Homo sapiens: one gene and its partner. The protein of the gene in region 1 interacts with the protein of each later gene in a pairwise test. Each region holds a gene or a part of one and is shown in the gene's direction. Other genes may lie near its edges.

What was found.
Region 2: the proteins of NUDCD1 (region 1) and COPG1 interact in binary tests that used the Homo sapiens proteins (3 or more experiments, as listed by UniProt).

What each region holds. Positions count from the first base shown.
Region 1 is NC_000008.11:109,323,551-109,331,087, reverse strand, and holds part of NUDCD1 (nudC domain-containing protein 1), read left to right. Parts: intron 1-1,153; exon of another isoform or gene 1,154-1,252; coding exon of another isoform or gene 1,253-1,283; intron 1,284-7,537.
Region 2 is NC_000003.12:129,245,333-129,253,006, forward strand, and holds the start of COPG1 (coatomer subunit gamma-1), read left to right. Parts: upstream 1-4,273; 5' UTR 4,274-4,377; coding exon 4,378-4,414; intron 4,415-5,349; coding exon 5,350-5,402; intron 5,403-6,948; coding exon 6,949-7,029; intron 7,030-7,290; coding exon 7,291-7,362; intron 7,363-7,543; coding exon 7,544-7,623; intron 7,624-7,674. UniProt on the Homo sapiens protein: The coatomer is a cytosolic protein complex that binds to dilysine motifs and reversibly associates with Golgi non-clathrin-coated vesicles, which further mediate biosynthetic protein transport from the ER, via the Golgi up to the trans Golgi network.

The sequences.
Region 1 (7,537 bases):
TAACAGGCCTGAGCCACTGCTCCGACCGATTTTTTTTTTTCTTTGAAGTTCCGGGGTACATGTGCAGGATGTGCAGGTTTGGTACATAGGTAAACGTGTGCCATGGTGGTTTGCTGCACCCGTCAACCCATCACCTAGGTATTAAGCCCAGCATGCATTAGCAATTTTTCCTAATGCTCTCCCTCCCCCTACCCCATTCTCTGACAGACCACAGTGTGTGTTGTTCCCCTCCCTGTGTCCATGTGATCTCATTATTCAGCTCCCACTTACAAGTGAGAACATGTGGTGTTTTGTGTTCTGTTCCTTCGTTGGTTTGTTGAGGACAGTGGCTTCCAGCTCCTTCCATGTCCCTTTGAAGGATATGATTGTGTTCCTTTTTATGGCTGCATAGTATTCCATGGCGTATGTGTACCACATTTTAAGTACAAGGGACGTGAACAGATACGGGAGTTGAAAAGCTTACCTCAGACTCTGTGGAGGTTGAGTTTGGAAGATGAGATGACTGCACACAGCAGATAGGAGGCTTTTGCAATAGTTCACATGATGAGTTTTTCATTAGGAATTACTTGAGGATGATGAAAAAGATTATTTTGTTTAAAAACTATCATTTCTAGAGATAGTGAAGCATAATTGAGGCGCTTCTGGTAATTTGATTTCTTTTATTCTAACTGAAGGAGTTCACTTTAGTTCCACAAACCTTTGATGGGCACCTTGGCTACCTGAAACACTGCATTTAAGATGTAAAGATGATGTGGTCTCTGGTGTCAAGAACTTGATGCAATGAGGCTTATTCTCTTGTCTTAAATAATGTTATTAAGTTGTACCAAAATTTCCTTTGCTACATAAGCAGTAAATGTCACTTTGTCTTTTTCTATTCCAAAGAACGAAACAAAAAACTTATTTTTAATCAAATTGTAATTGTCTTTTGATCCGGCAATTTCCTTCCTAGGCATTTATAAATATCCTTTTCCTAGAATCTTCATTTAGTACAAGTCTTTTTATATGTTTTTATATGTTTCCCAGCTATATTTCACCTAGCTAATTCATACTTCATTCTTTCATGTTGGCTTACATGTTACTTCCTCAGGGATTCCTTTCTTGACTAGTCAGAATCTACACTATAGAATCTGTATTATGCGTTGCCATAGTAACCAGTACTTCATAGACTTTATCATACTTCGTAGCATCCAGTATGTTTTCTTTGCTAAGATTATTGATTTTGTATTGAAGGGTCCCATGTCCATCGTTTTCAATGCTTTATCTCCAGGGTTGGAGCATGCCTGGTAAGTAGGACATAAATTTGTCTCACAAATTAAACAGCTTTATGAAGACATAATTGACAATAAACTACAAATTTAAAATGTACAACTTAAGAAGTTGTGATATATGTATACACCCGTGAAATCATCACCACAATCAAGATACTAAACTTAGCTATCATTCCCAAAGTTTCCTTGTACCCTTCTGTAACCATCTCTCTGCTCCTTCTGCATTCTAGGTTGACAGTTTTTTCTTTCAATGCTTTAAAGTTATAGCCTCAGTCTTGCTTATATTGTTTCTGATGAGAAATCTCACATTATCCTATCTTTGTTGCTCTATACATAACATGCCTTTTTTCTTCTGTTTTAAGATTTTTCTCTTTTACATTGGTTTTGAGCAGTTTGATAATATTGTGGCCAGCTGTGGTTTTCTTTATGATTCTTATGTTTGGGGTTTGTTGGGCTATAAACTGCGGACATATAGTTTTTATCAAGATCAATGGCAATATTTTGGCTATTATTTCTTCCAACTTTTTCCCCTCCTTTTCTCCTTTGAAGACTCCAGTTACACATTTTTAGATCACAGAAGTTGGTCTCAGCTCATGAATGCCCGTTTCATTTTTTCTTCATACTTTTTTCTGTTTTATTGCCAATAGTTTCCATTTTCATGCCTTTAGTTCCGTTTACTTTTTTTTTTTGTAATATTAGTCTCTTGTTAATCCCATCTGGTGTATTTTTCATCTTGGACATTGTAATATTCACATCTAGAAGTTTGATTTAAATCTTTTGCATCTTTCTTGCTTCTACTTACTTATGTTGAACATACATGGAGTACATGTAGCAATAATTGTTTTTACATCTTGTTCTGTGAATTGTAGCTTCCATGTCAGTTTTATATTGGCTTCTATTGATTGGTAATTCTCTTCATTATGGATTTTGTTTTCTTTCCTCTTTGCATATGTGGTAATCTTTGATTGGATGCCAGACATTGTGAATTTTACCTTGTTAGGTGCAGGTTATTTTTGTATTTTTATAATGTTCTTGAGTTTTTTTTCCGGGATATAGTTGAGTTACTTGGAAACAGATTAATTCCATTGGTTCTTGCTTTTATGATTTGTTAGTCCGATCAGGAGCAGTGCTCAGTCTAGGGTTATTTCCCACTACCGAGGCAAGACTTTCCTGTGTACACTACCCAGTATCCCACAAATTAAGGGTTTTCTCCATTCTGCTTATTGGGAGCAGTTATGGTTCCTAGCCTTATGTGAGTGCCCAGGATTTCTCTTCAACCCTTTCAGATGGTTCTTTCTGTAGCCTGGGGTAATCTCCTCAAACACATGCCATTAGTACTCTTGAGTACTTGAGGCAGACTCTCAGATCTCTGGGCTTCTCTCTGCATCTCTCTTTTCTCTGCTACTCTGTCTAATGACAGAGTAGTAGCCTAGTTTCTTCAACTCAAGGAGGTTGAAGTCAACTCTGCATACAAGTACTCTGGCCTTTTTCTTTCTTCAGAGAAGGGGGAAGAAAAGCTGGTGAAGATTTACACTACAGTTAAAGGGAGGGAAAAGCCATGTAACCGTTGTATTTATGTAGAGTTGACTATACCTCACTTTCCCTTCTTTGTGCTGTGGTCTGGAAACTCCTCAAGGCAGTAAACTAGATTGGTGGTGGGGCTAATCTCATAAGTGTCCTTTGTTGTTTTATGTCTGATGTCTTGAAAACTGTTGTTTCATTTAACTTTCTCTGGTTTGTTTCATCTTATTGGATGTTTCTGGTGGAAAGATAAATCTGGTTCCTATTCTTCCATGTTGGCTGCAAACAAAAGTTATTCAATGTATATTTTTAAGTGAAAAAATATTTTCTGTAGAATAATAGAGCTAGAAACAATTGAAAAGGGCTAATGAGTATAGTGAGAAAATGGATGTATAAACAGCTTTTTAAAGAAGTTTGAGAAGAACAAGGTAGGGGAGAGCTCTGCTTTAGCGGCCAGGCAGAGAAAAGGAAGCCTTTTTTATTTGTTTATTTTGCGAGTGGGGAAGTTTCAGCATATGTAAGTGGAGGAGAAACACCAGTGGACAGGAGATAACTTCTGGCAGGAGAAAATTGAATCATAAACACCTGTGTGGGAATTAGCCTTGAATGGGAGAAAAGGAACAGGGAAATCAATGCTTAATCTTATGTGCCATGCATTGATAGTAAATACATTGCATATTTCGACTGAAGCTTGTCAATGTTTTGGTACAATTAGTATTACTAACCTTTATTATAGATGAGGAAATGGGCAATAAGATGAGCTAACTTAACCAAGTTATTCATCAGTGGCAAAGCTGACCCTAAAGCTCATGCTTTTCCTAATGATCTTTGTGGTCACTCTGGCCTTTTTCTTTCTTCAGAGCAGAGGGAAGAAAAGCTGGTGAAGATTTACACTACAGTTAGAGTAAAGGGAGGGAAAAGCCACGTAACCATTGTATTTATGTAGAGTTGACTATAAAACTCATCTCTACCCTTATGGAGGAAAAGATGGGGAAAATACCCACATGAATGTGTTGAGGTCAGAGAAGTATTGCATAAAATAATTTTATGGGAGCAGTGCTCTTAACTCTGGTCCTCCCGTGTTCTTTAAGTCTCGCTTTAGAATTTGTGGACTTGTACTTTTACTTTTTTACACCTTCATAGATAAATAGCAAGCTCAGTAACTAGGTGAAAAGAAGGCTTATTGGGTTGATTCTAGAAGCTAAGTGGTCCATGAAGTGACCTTTGTAAGTTAACGTTCTTGGCCTCTCTCTTCCCCCTCTTTAAAGATTATTATACTTTGCTTATGTAAATATTAGACTGCATCATATTTAATTGGTGTCAAAGAGTTAAATATTGGCAATATCATGTGGTTCAAGTAATAGTGTATTTTGAGAAGCCAAGAAACAGTAATGAATATCATCGTTAGCACTATTAGTGCAGGAGACAGGTCTGTTTTATTCACTGTTTGTGCCCAATGCCAACCACAATGTCTGGTACATATAGTAGATATTCAATAAATAATTTATGAATGAAAAACTATAGCCCTTTGAGGTCCCATGAGGCTTTTGTGGTTTTCATGTGTGAAAAACTAGGTTTTGAGGTTCGGTAAGTATTTGGGCAAATGTTAAGGGAGACTCTTCTTTTGAGGCCCTAAGTTCTTTTTAGAAGACTAATCCTTATCAGATTTTTCAGCAAAGCTCTTTTATTTTCAATGCAAGGTATCATTAAATAATAAAATATTTACTACACTGGCTTCTCTGTAAAAAGTTCTTCTTCTTCAACCCTTACAAAGATCTATGCAGAGATTGAAGCCTCGCTGCCCCCTACTTCTTTTTTTGGGAGAACTCTGCAAAAGAGCTCTGCCAGTAGCTAAGAACTGTCACATTCTGGACACTGCTTTTCTACTTTCAGTTGCTCTGCCTCCCACTTTTATAATCAAGATAATTGACATGGTCATCATCATGTGATAACTTTTCCTTTCTCATTTGAGGCCAGAGAGGTGTCCTTTTTCTATGCGTTAATAGAGATTTTACAAAATAGCATGTAATATGGCCTAGACTCACATCTGTGTCTTAATAACTTATATAAATTATTTTGTTGGAATGAAACAATCATGAAGTGTTGTAATAAGACTGATGTCTAAGAAGCCTCCAGTTTGTTCAGGATTGCCCAGAGGTCTTTGCACAGATATGAAGAAAATGTATTTGTTATATCGTTGTCTAATATTACTGCTTCAGGCCCTTATGTTACCATGCAGTTTTCCTGCAGTATCGAGTTTCATCCACACAGTGGTGCTAGAAAACCAAGAATACATATTTCTAACTGTTGCTTATAAAATAAGTGGTGTTATATGTTTCCTCAACCTCTATCAAATCTATCATAATTGGATTTTTACCTGTGAGATGTTTCCATTATCTCTCAACCAGATGATTGCAATAGCTTTCTAATGGATCTTCCTGGATTTACCCTGCTTTATTCCAATTTGTTTTCCATATTGTAGTTATAAGTACTCTTTTATAAACTCAAATCTGAACTTTACTCTCCTGCTTAAAAACTGTTAATGAATTCTTTTAAATTGAATTTGTCAACAAAAATAAATACAGTCCATTCATAATCCAGTTCTTGCTGAGTTTTCATTTATTGCAACCTTTCCTGTACAAGTCCCCTTGTTGCTCTGCATTTCGGCCAGTGTGGCCTTCTTTGAACAGTGTGGCCTTCTTTGTGTTCTTTGAACACAAGTTTTTCTTCCTACTTTTTACAGATTTTCCTTCTGTCTGGAAAAGTAGAGGAGTGGGTATGCATGTATATAGGTGTATTTTTTATTTTAAAAATATGTTAAATTGATAAACTGGGATTTTATGTTATATTTTGATGCATGCATACGGTGTGTAATGATCAAATCAGTATTTAGGGTGTTCATCAACTTCAGTATTTACCATTTCTTTGTGTTGGGAACATTTGAAATCTTCTAGCTATTTTGGTACTCGCTGTTTTGAAATACACAATATATTGTTGTTAACTGTAGTCACCCAACTGTGCTATCAAACATGAGAACTTAATCCTTTTAATTGTATGTTTGTACCCATTAAGCAACCTCCCTTCATCCCCCACCCCCATCTTTCCCAGCCTCTGATAACTATCTTTCTACTCTCTCCCTCCATGAAATCCACTTTTTTAGCTGCGTGTATGATGTCTTTCTGTACCTGGTTTATTTTATTTATTTATTTTTGAGATGAAGTCTCACTCTGTCCCAGGCTGGAGTGCAGTGGAGCGATCTCGGCTCACTGCAACCTCTGCCTCCTGGGTTCAAGCGATTCTCGTGCCTCAGCCTCCCCAGTAGTTGGAATTACAGGCACGCACTGTCACACCCAGCTAATTTGTTTTTTGAATTTTTAGTAGAGACGGGGTTTCATCATGTTGGCCAGGATGGTCTCAATCTCCTGACCTCGTGATCCGCCCGCCTTGGCCTCCCAAAGTGCTGGGATTACAGGCCTGAGCCTCGGCGCCCGGCCTTGTGCCTGGTTTATTTCACTTAATGACCTCCAGTTCCATCTATGTTGCTGCAAATGATAGAATTTCGTTCTTTTTTATGGCTGAATAGTATTTCAGTGTGTGTATATACTACATTTTCTTTATCTGTTCATCCTTTGGCCACTTAGGTTTCCCCCATGTCTTGGCTTTTGTAAATAGTGCTGAAATAATCATGGAAGTGACGGTATTCCTTTTGATATACTGACTTTCTTTTGTTTTGATAAATATTCATTTGTGGGAGTGCCTATTGTGGTATAGTAGTTATAGTTTTAGTTTTTTGAGAAACCTCTTTACTATTTTCCATAATGGCTATACTAATTTACATTCCCACTGACAGATTATATGTTCCCTTTTCTCCACATCCTTGCCAGCATTTGTTATTTTTTTTTTTTGTATTTTTTTGAAAATAGCCATTCTAACTACAGGAAGATGATATCTCATTGTGATTTCAATTTGCATTTCCTCAATAATTAGTGATGTTGAGCATTTTTTCATGTAACTGTTGGCTATTTATTTATATATTCTTTTGAGAAATGTCTATTAAGATCTTTGCCCTCTTTATAATGGGACTTTTTTTTTTTTGCTTCAACAGCAAAAAAAATTTTCATTCCTTACGATTGAATAGTTTGCAAATATTTTCTCCCATTCTATAGGTTGTCTCTTCACTAGGTTGTTTGTTTCTTTTGCTCTGCAGAAGGTATTTTTGTTGTTGTTGTTGTTTAGTTAAATATAATCCCATTTGTCTTTTTGTTTTTCTTGCCTATGCTTTTGAGGTCTTAACCATAAAATCTTTGCATAGACCTATATCCTGAAGCATTTCTTCTCTGTTTCCTTTTTGGTATTTTTATAGTTTTTGAGTTGATTTTTGCATATGATGAGAGATAGGAGTCTAATTTTATTTTTCTGCTATGGATATCCAATTTTCACACCATTTATTGAGGAAGGTATCCTTTTCCCAGTGTATGTTCTTTGCACCTTTGTCAAAAATCAGTTGGCTACATGTACATGGATTTATTTCTGATCCATGAGCATGAGATGTCTATTTGTGTCCTCTTCAATTTCTTTCATTAATGTTTTGTAGTTTTCTTGTAGAAGTCTTTCACCTTCTTGTTAAAATACTTTTTCTTAAGTTAATTCTTTCTTATCTTTTATGTCGTGGCTCAAACCTTGGAAAGCTTTTGTTAATCTCCCCAAATAGAACTCTTACATTATGTGTTCTCATGGTACCCAGTGAT
Region 2 (7,674 bases), on another chromosome or scaffold:
CAGTTGGCATGTGTCCTTCATCAATGTACATAATGTCTGAGATTCAGGTTTGTGCCAGTGAAGTCAGCATGATGTTTACTTTGAACTTTCATTAGGTGGGCTCAGGATAAAATACATGAAGTGCTTCTCGCCTGGTGAGTCCTTGATAAACGCTAGCACTTGTATTGTGGTCCTCCTGCCCCAATAATGATCACACCTTAGCACAATGTTGCCCTTCACAGTTTGCAAAGGCGGGGGCGCTTATATTCATGATCTCATCCTAAAAAAGTCTAATTTTTGTTAACAACAGCTCATATGTATAGAGTACTTGCTATTTTTACAAGTATTATGTAACAGTGGGTGCTCAACAAATGCCGAATGAGTGAGGGCATAGTTTCAAAAGTGGGCGTGGGTGGACAAGAAAACAGGTGACTTACTGGAAAACTCATTTTATGAGGCTGGAAGCTGCCTCTAAAGCAAGGGTAGTCCTGAGTCTCCCTGTTATATTGAAGGGAGTTAGTCCCCGGACTCTGAAACTGCCCTGGGTCACCCTAGTGGACAGACAGGGCCTGGCATGGGGGCTTCAAGCCTCTTCCAGCTGTGCCGTCGCTAAAAAACTAGAGGTAAAATTAAAGAGTTGGTGCCACCTAGAGGGCAAGAGAGTGCATCTCAGAAGAGGGCTGCGGAAATCCTTAGAATATGGAAGGTGGTGGTGGTTATAAAGAATCATAAAAATAATCTCTATTGGCCTGGCATGGTGGCTCATGCCTGTAATCCCAACACTTTGGGAGGCCGAGGCGGGAGGATCACTTGAGGTCAGGAGTTCAAGACCAGCCTGGCCAACATGGTGAAACCCCGTCTCCACCAAAAATACAAAAATTAGCTGAGTCTGGTGGCACACGCCTGTAGTCCCAGCTACTAGGGAGGCTGAGGCATGAGAATCGCTTGAACCTGGGAGGCAGAGGTTGCAGTGAGCTGAGATTGCACCACTGCACTCCAGCCTGGGTGACAGAGCTACACTCTGTCTAAAAAAAAAAAAAAAAAGAAGAAGGGGTCTAGACTTAAATAACTCATACAACTCTAAATAAAAAGATAAAATAATTTTAAAACGAGCAAGGGATATGAACAGCTATTTTTTCAAAGAAGATGTACAAATGACCAATAAGCACATGAAAAGATGCTCAACATCAGTAGCCATCAGGAAAGTGCAAATTGAAACCTCTTCACACCCACTAGCATGGCTATAATCAAAAAGACAGTAACAAGTGTTGACAAGGATATGAAGAAATTGAAACCCCCATACACTGCTGGTGGGAATGTAAAATGGTGCAGCTGCTTTGGAAAAGCAGTTAGACAGTTCTCAAAAAGTTAAACATAGTTACCATATGACCTAGTAATACCACTCTTAGGTATAGACCCAAGAGAAGTTAAAACATAGGGTTGCACAAAAGCTTGTACATTAATGTTCACAGCATTCACAGCTTTGTTCACAAGAGCTAGACTGGAAACAAGCCAAATGTCCATCAACTGATTAACAAACAAAATATAGTAAATCCATAAAATGGAATATTATCCAGCTACAAAAGGAATGAAGTACTGATTCATGCTATAACATGTCTTGAAAACATGCTAAATGAAAGAAGCAAAACACACAAAAGACTACATAGCATATGATTCTGTTTATATGAAATATCCAGAACATGCAAATCTATAGACAGAAAGTAGATTAGTGGTTGCCAGGGGCTGGGCAGATGGGCAAATGGAAAGTGACTGCTAATGAATAGCTTTCTTTTTGGGATGATGAAAATGTTCTCCAATTAGTGCGGACAGGTACATAAACTTTTTTTAATATACTAAAACCCACTGAATTGTACACCTATTTATATATGCATGTGTGTGTGTGTGTGTGTGTGTGTGTATATATATATATATGTATATACACTTTTTTTTTTTGAGACAGAGTCTCGCCCGTCACCCAGGCTGGAGTGCAATGGCACGATCTTGGCTCAGGGCAACCTCCACCTCCTGAGCAATTCTCCTGCCTCAGCCTCCCGAGTAGCTGGGATTACAGGCATCTGCCACCATGCCCAGTGAATTTTTATATTTTTAGTAGAGACGGGGTTTCACCATGTTGGTCAGGTTGGTCTCAAACTCTTGACCTCAGGTGATTCACCCTCCTCAGCCTCCCAAGTGCTGGAGGCGTGAGCCACCTCGCCTGGCCACCCCTATGTATTTTTTGAGACAGGGTCTTGCTCTGTTGCCCACGCTGGAAGTACAGAGGCATGATCATGGCTCACTGCAGCCTTGACCTCCCAGGCTTAAGCAATCCTCCCATCTCAGACTCCTGGAGTAGCTGAGACAAGATAAAAATCAGTTTAGTCCTCAGATGTACCATAACTTCCTTAATCATCCCTTTATTGATAGACATTTAGGGTGTTTACAATTATTTTGCTGCAAACTGCTGCAGCAGGCAACTTCATTTTCTTTTTTCTTTTTTTTGAGACAGTTTCGCTTTTGTTGCCCAGACTCCAGGCTGGAGTGCAACGGCGTGATCTCAGCTCACTGCAGCCTCCGCCTCCCAGGTTCAAACGATTCTCCTGCCTCAGCCTCCCGAGTAGCTGGGATTACAGGTATGCACCACCACGCCAGGCTAATTTTTTTTTTTTTTGTATTTAGTAGAGATGGGGTTTCACCATGTTGGTCAGGCTGCTCTCAAACTCCTGACCTCAGGTGATCCACCTGCCTCAGCCTTCCAAAGTGCTGGGATTACAGGCTTGAGACACTGCGCCCGGCCTCATTTTCTTCTTTTGAACAATTTCCTCCTGATTAGGGGTGGGGTTACCGATCAGACATTTTGAACATCTTTCTGACTCTTGACAATTTTGCATGTCACAAGATCTGTTGTCCTTGGCCCTAGCCTCTGCAAAGCCAGACCCTAAGGGCTGGCCCCTCTGACATCTCCCTTCCTCCAGCTTTGCGGTCACCCTTTTCACCTGGGGCCTCTGCCTCAGCCTCCTGCCTCTCCTCTCCACAGCCCACTCCTTCTCCTGCCCACAGGCCTGCGGGCTTCCCCTCCCCAGGCAAGCTGGGGCCGTGTCGCAGCGCTTGGCCATCACGACTTTGCCATTGCCAATGCAATCTGGCTCACTGGCATGCACTGTGCTTACCTTAGCCTCAGGGTGTCCTGCATAGGTCCCCAGGAAGATAAACCCTGGGTGATGTGTCATTTTCCCCTTTCCGTTCCTTCCCACGCCCTTCCCCCCACCTCCCCGCGTAGGCAGCGCATCTAGTTGGCACTCCATAAATATCCAAAGTATTTACAAAATAACGTAGAAGTTCTATGCTGTTTAGTTAGATCTCTTAAGGTTGATAATGTACAAGGCAATTTGCATCAGGAGCAGACGAGATAGGGCCCGGCAGATATAAATTAAAAATGCAATTGCACGCATTCATTCAACGAGAACTCACTGAGCAACTACTATGTGCCAACATTATCCACTGCAGTGAATAAAAGACAAACAAACAAGCAAATAACAAAAAAAAAAACAAAAGAGCAAGAAAGTGGCCGGGTGCAGTGGCTCACCGCTGTAATCCCAGCACTTTGGAAGGTCGAGAAAGGAGGATCGCTTGAGGCCACGAGTTCAAGACCAGACTGGGCAACATCATAGTGAGACCTCGTCTCTACAAAAATTAAAAAATTAGTCGGGGGTGGTGCGCCCAGCTCTACTCGGGAGGCTGAGGTGGGAGGATCGCTTGAGCCCAGGAACTGTAGGCTGCAGTGAGCCAGGATCGCACAACTGCACCACAGCCTGGGCAGCAGAACGAGAAATAAATAAACAAATAAAAGCCAGAAAGTAAAAATAAAGTGTTAGATGGCGATTCGAGCTGAGGAGGAAATCAGGCAGGGGAAAGAATCTGAAAGCGAGGAGTGAGTGGCTGGCAAGGCTCCTTCGGAAGGTGGCAATAACAGTCATAGACCGGTCACATCAATTGGGTGTTTACTGCGGGCCAGTGTGTGCCACCAACCTCACACCCGAAAGCCACAAAGACTCACGCCACAACGCAACGAGGCAGGGGCTCCTCCTCCTCCCTTGGTATACGGAAAGAAGCGTAGGGAGCAGAGTTGGGATGCTAGTCAGTACCCCCCTGCACCTAGCCCTTGCCCCTCCGTCTGGCTTTCCCCACTCCCGCTCCGGCGGAGCTAAGGTTAACATTAGACGAGGCTGTGGCTACCGGAAAGAGCGCAGGCGCAGAGCGCGGAATGCGCCTGCGCAGAGCGCTGGGCGACGTGGCCAGTCGGGGCCCGGAAGTGGTCCCTGTAGAACCACTGTGGCACCGCTACTCCGTGCCGCGCCCGTCGAGCATTGCGTTGCTGCATTGCGCCCCACCGACTCCACTATGTTGAAGAAATTCGACAAGAAGGATGAGGAGTCAGGTGAGGGGGCCAGGCCTGGGTCTGAGGGAGGCCGGACCCCCACCCGCCGAGCTTTCCTTCTGGTTCTCTGTCCTGACCCGGAGGCTGAGGCCCAGTGAGGGGCAGGGGCTTGTGCCAGGGTCCACAGCTAGTCAGTGGCAGGCCTCGGAGAGCCCGAGCATGCGCGGCTGTCTCACTCTTGTAAGCTCGGACTGCAATTTTCTGGGTGACCTTGGGCGCGACAAACACCCCCCCCCCCAGGCCTCAATTTACCCATCTGTCAAAGGAGGGGACCATGCCGAATGTTCTCTTGTTACTTTCTTCGTCCAACCTCTTGGGATTCGCTGGGGCTACGTTGGTGCTGGCCAAACTGGGGTGTAACCTGCGGAGCCAGCGTCCTGTGACTGGGAACTCTGACCCCATCATTCATTTATTCAGCAAAGTATATTGAGCAGTTACTGTATGCCAGGTACTGTACGGTGTCCTGGATACTGCAACAGAGCAAGTGGGACACTCAGTGCCTGAGCTAGGAATATTAGAATGGTTGCACCCACGATGGAGGAGGCAGACATCAACCAGATAATCACACGTGTAATTATTTGCAAATGTGTCATCTGCTATGAAGGAACTAGTTACAACGAGATGGTGGTCCCTGGCACATAGGGACTTAGTTAATTACAAGTTATATAAATGAACACAAGACATGGCACCATGAGAAGCACAGGACTGTACCAGGGCTGCTGGGAGATTGTGAGTGGTTTGGGGTAGAGTGGAGCCCACCTGCTTGCAGGAGACTAGTAGGATCCCTAGACAGATTGTAGAGGCTTGATTGCCATTCCTGAGGAGTTTGAACTTTACTAGATTTCCTAGGAAGGGACATCTTCCCTTTACCTATGTCTGGGAGAGTTTTGAAGTTCAGAGTCACAACCTACCTTCTCCATTGTCCTTGACCGTAGGTGGAGGCTCCAACCCATTCCAGCACCTTGAGAAGAGTGCGGTACTCCAGGAGGCAAGTGACATTTGCTCCCCTCTAGCTTCCATCATAAATATTCACCACCAATGCAACTGAAATACCAACACATTCAAAGTGTTGTTTTAAAGAGCAACACGGGAGAAAACTTGTGCCTGGAAGTTTTCTGGAAGACAGGAAAACTTTGTTTCTGGAGAGAGTTAGTTATGCTTACTTCTTTTTTTTTTTTTTTTTTTTTTTTTTTCTGAGACAGAGTCTTGCTCTGTCGCTCAGGCTGGAGTGCAGTGGCGTGATCTCGGCTCACTGCAAGCTCCGCCTTCCAGGTTCACGCCATTCTCCTGCCTCAGCCTCCCAAGTAGCTGGGACTACAGACGCCCGCCACCACACCCGGCTAATTTTTTGTATTTTTAGTAGAGACGGGGTTTCACCGCGTTAGCCAGGACGGTCTTGATCTCCTGACCTCGTGATCCACCCGCCTCGGCCTCCCAAAGTGCTGGGATTACAGGCTTGAGCCACCGCGCCTGGCCTCTCTATTTAAACATTTAAAAAATTTCTCTATTTAAAGTTAATTCCAAAGCTAAGGAAACTGGTTTAAAACTATCACCTAAGCTAGACTGTGGCCATTATGCAGGTAGAGATTTTGCATGACTTGTTTATTTTTATTATATATATTTTTTATATATATATATATATGTATTTTTTTTTAGAAGGCGTCTCACTCTGTTGCTCAGGCTGGAGTGCAGTGGCACGATCTCGGCTCAACTGCAACCTCTGCCTCCTGGGTTCAAGCAATTTTTCTGTCTCAGCCTCCCAAGTAGCCGGGACTACAGGCGCACGCCACTATGCCTGGCTGATTTTTATATTTTTAGTAGAGATGAGGTTTCACGATGTTGGCCAGGCAGGAGAATGGTGTGAATCCTGACCTCTTGATCCTCCCGCCTCGGCCTCCCAAAGTGCTGGGATTATAAGCGTGAGCCACCGCGCCCGGCCACTTCTCTTTTTTTTTTTGAGATGGAGACTTGCTGGTGTCAGCCTGGGGTGGAGTGCAATGGCATGATCTTGGCTTGCTGCAACCTCCGCCTCCTGGGTTCCAGCAATTCTCCTGCCTCGGCCTCCCGAGTAGCTGAGATTACAGGTGCCCACCACCATGCCTGGCTAAGTTTTGTATTTTTAGTACAGACGGGGTTTCACCATGTTGGCCAGGCTGGTCTCGAACTGACCTCAGGTGATCCACCCGCCTCGGCCTCCCAAAGTGCTAGGATTACAGGTGTGAGCTACTGCGTCCAGCCGCTTCTTTCTTTATTGTTGTCGTTCATTGTTTCTGTTTCCAGTTAGCAGATGGTTGCTAAGTATCTGCTAGTCAATAGGTTAGCACATCCCTAACTAATATTTACACGAGAGTCTAAGAATAATTAGTAGTTGATTAAAGAAAAACAAACCCTTTCCTTATGAAAATAAGCTTGTTGCATACCCAGAAAGCCCTGTTTAGACAAGTCAGTTTACCCTGAGACTTCTCAGACATTGAATATACTTGAAGGGAAATGAACTAGGCTAGAAGGTAACATCTTTGGTCATTTCTTCTTAGGCCCGTGTATTTAATGAAACTCCCATCAACCCTCGGAAATGTGCCCACATCCTCACCAAGATTCTTTATCTCATAAACCAGGTAACAGGGTGAAGCTTGCGGGTAGGGAGAATGGTGCTGGGGGATTGGAGGGGAGTGGACAAATCATGATCACTCTTAGGCTATTGGACAGCCTCTGTGTGGCTGTAGACAACAGCTCAGCTCTGGGTCCCCTCAGCATCCAAGTCTCATATGTTGCCCTTGAGCCTCTTTAGGGTCTGGGGATCTGGTGTGGGCTGATCCTGAAAGAACTGCTGTCTGACCCTCTGTCCCAAGCTGAGACTTCTTTCTTGATTAACACAGGGGGAGCACCTGGGGACCACGGAAGCGACCGAGGCCTTCTTTGCCATGACCAAGCTCTTTCAGTCCAATGATGTAAGTGCCTCAACCCAGCTTTCCTTGAGAGGTGGCAGCTGTAACAAGGTGGTGGGAGGGCCAAAGAGAGCTGGCCCCACCAGTCAGTGTGGGCTGCCTTTGTGGAGACAGGAGGTATCTTCTCCCAACTCTGGCCCTTGGTGAGCCCGGGCTGATAGGGCTTTTCCCACCTATCTCCCAGCCCACACTCCGTCGGATGTGCTACTTGACCATCAAGGAGATGTCTTGCATTGCAGAGGATGTCATCATTGTCACCAGCAGGCAAGTCATGGGGTTGTGGGTGGCTCTTCTGATGGGTTCCATTGACAGACC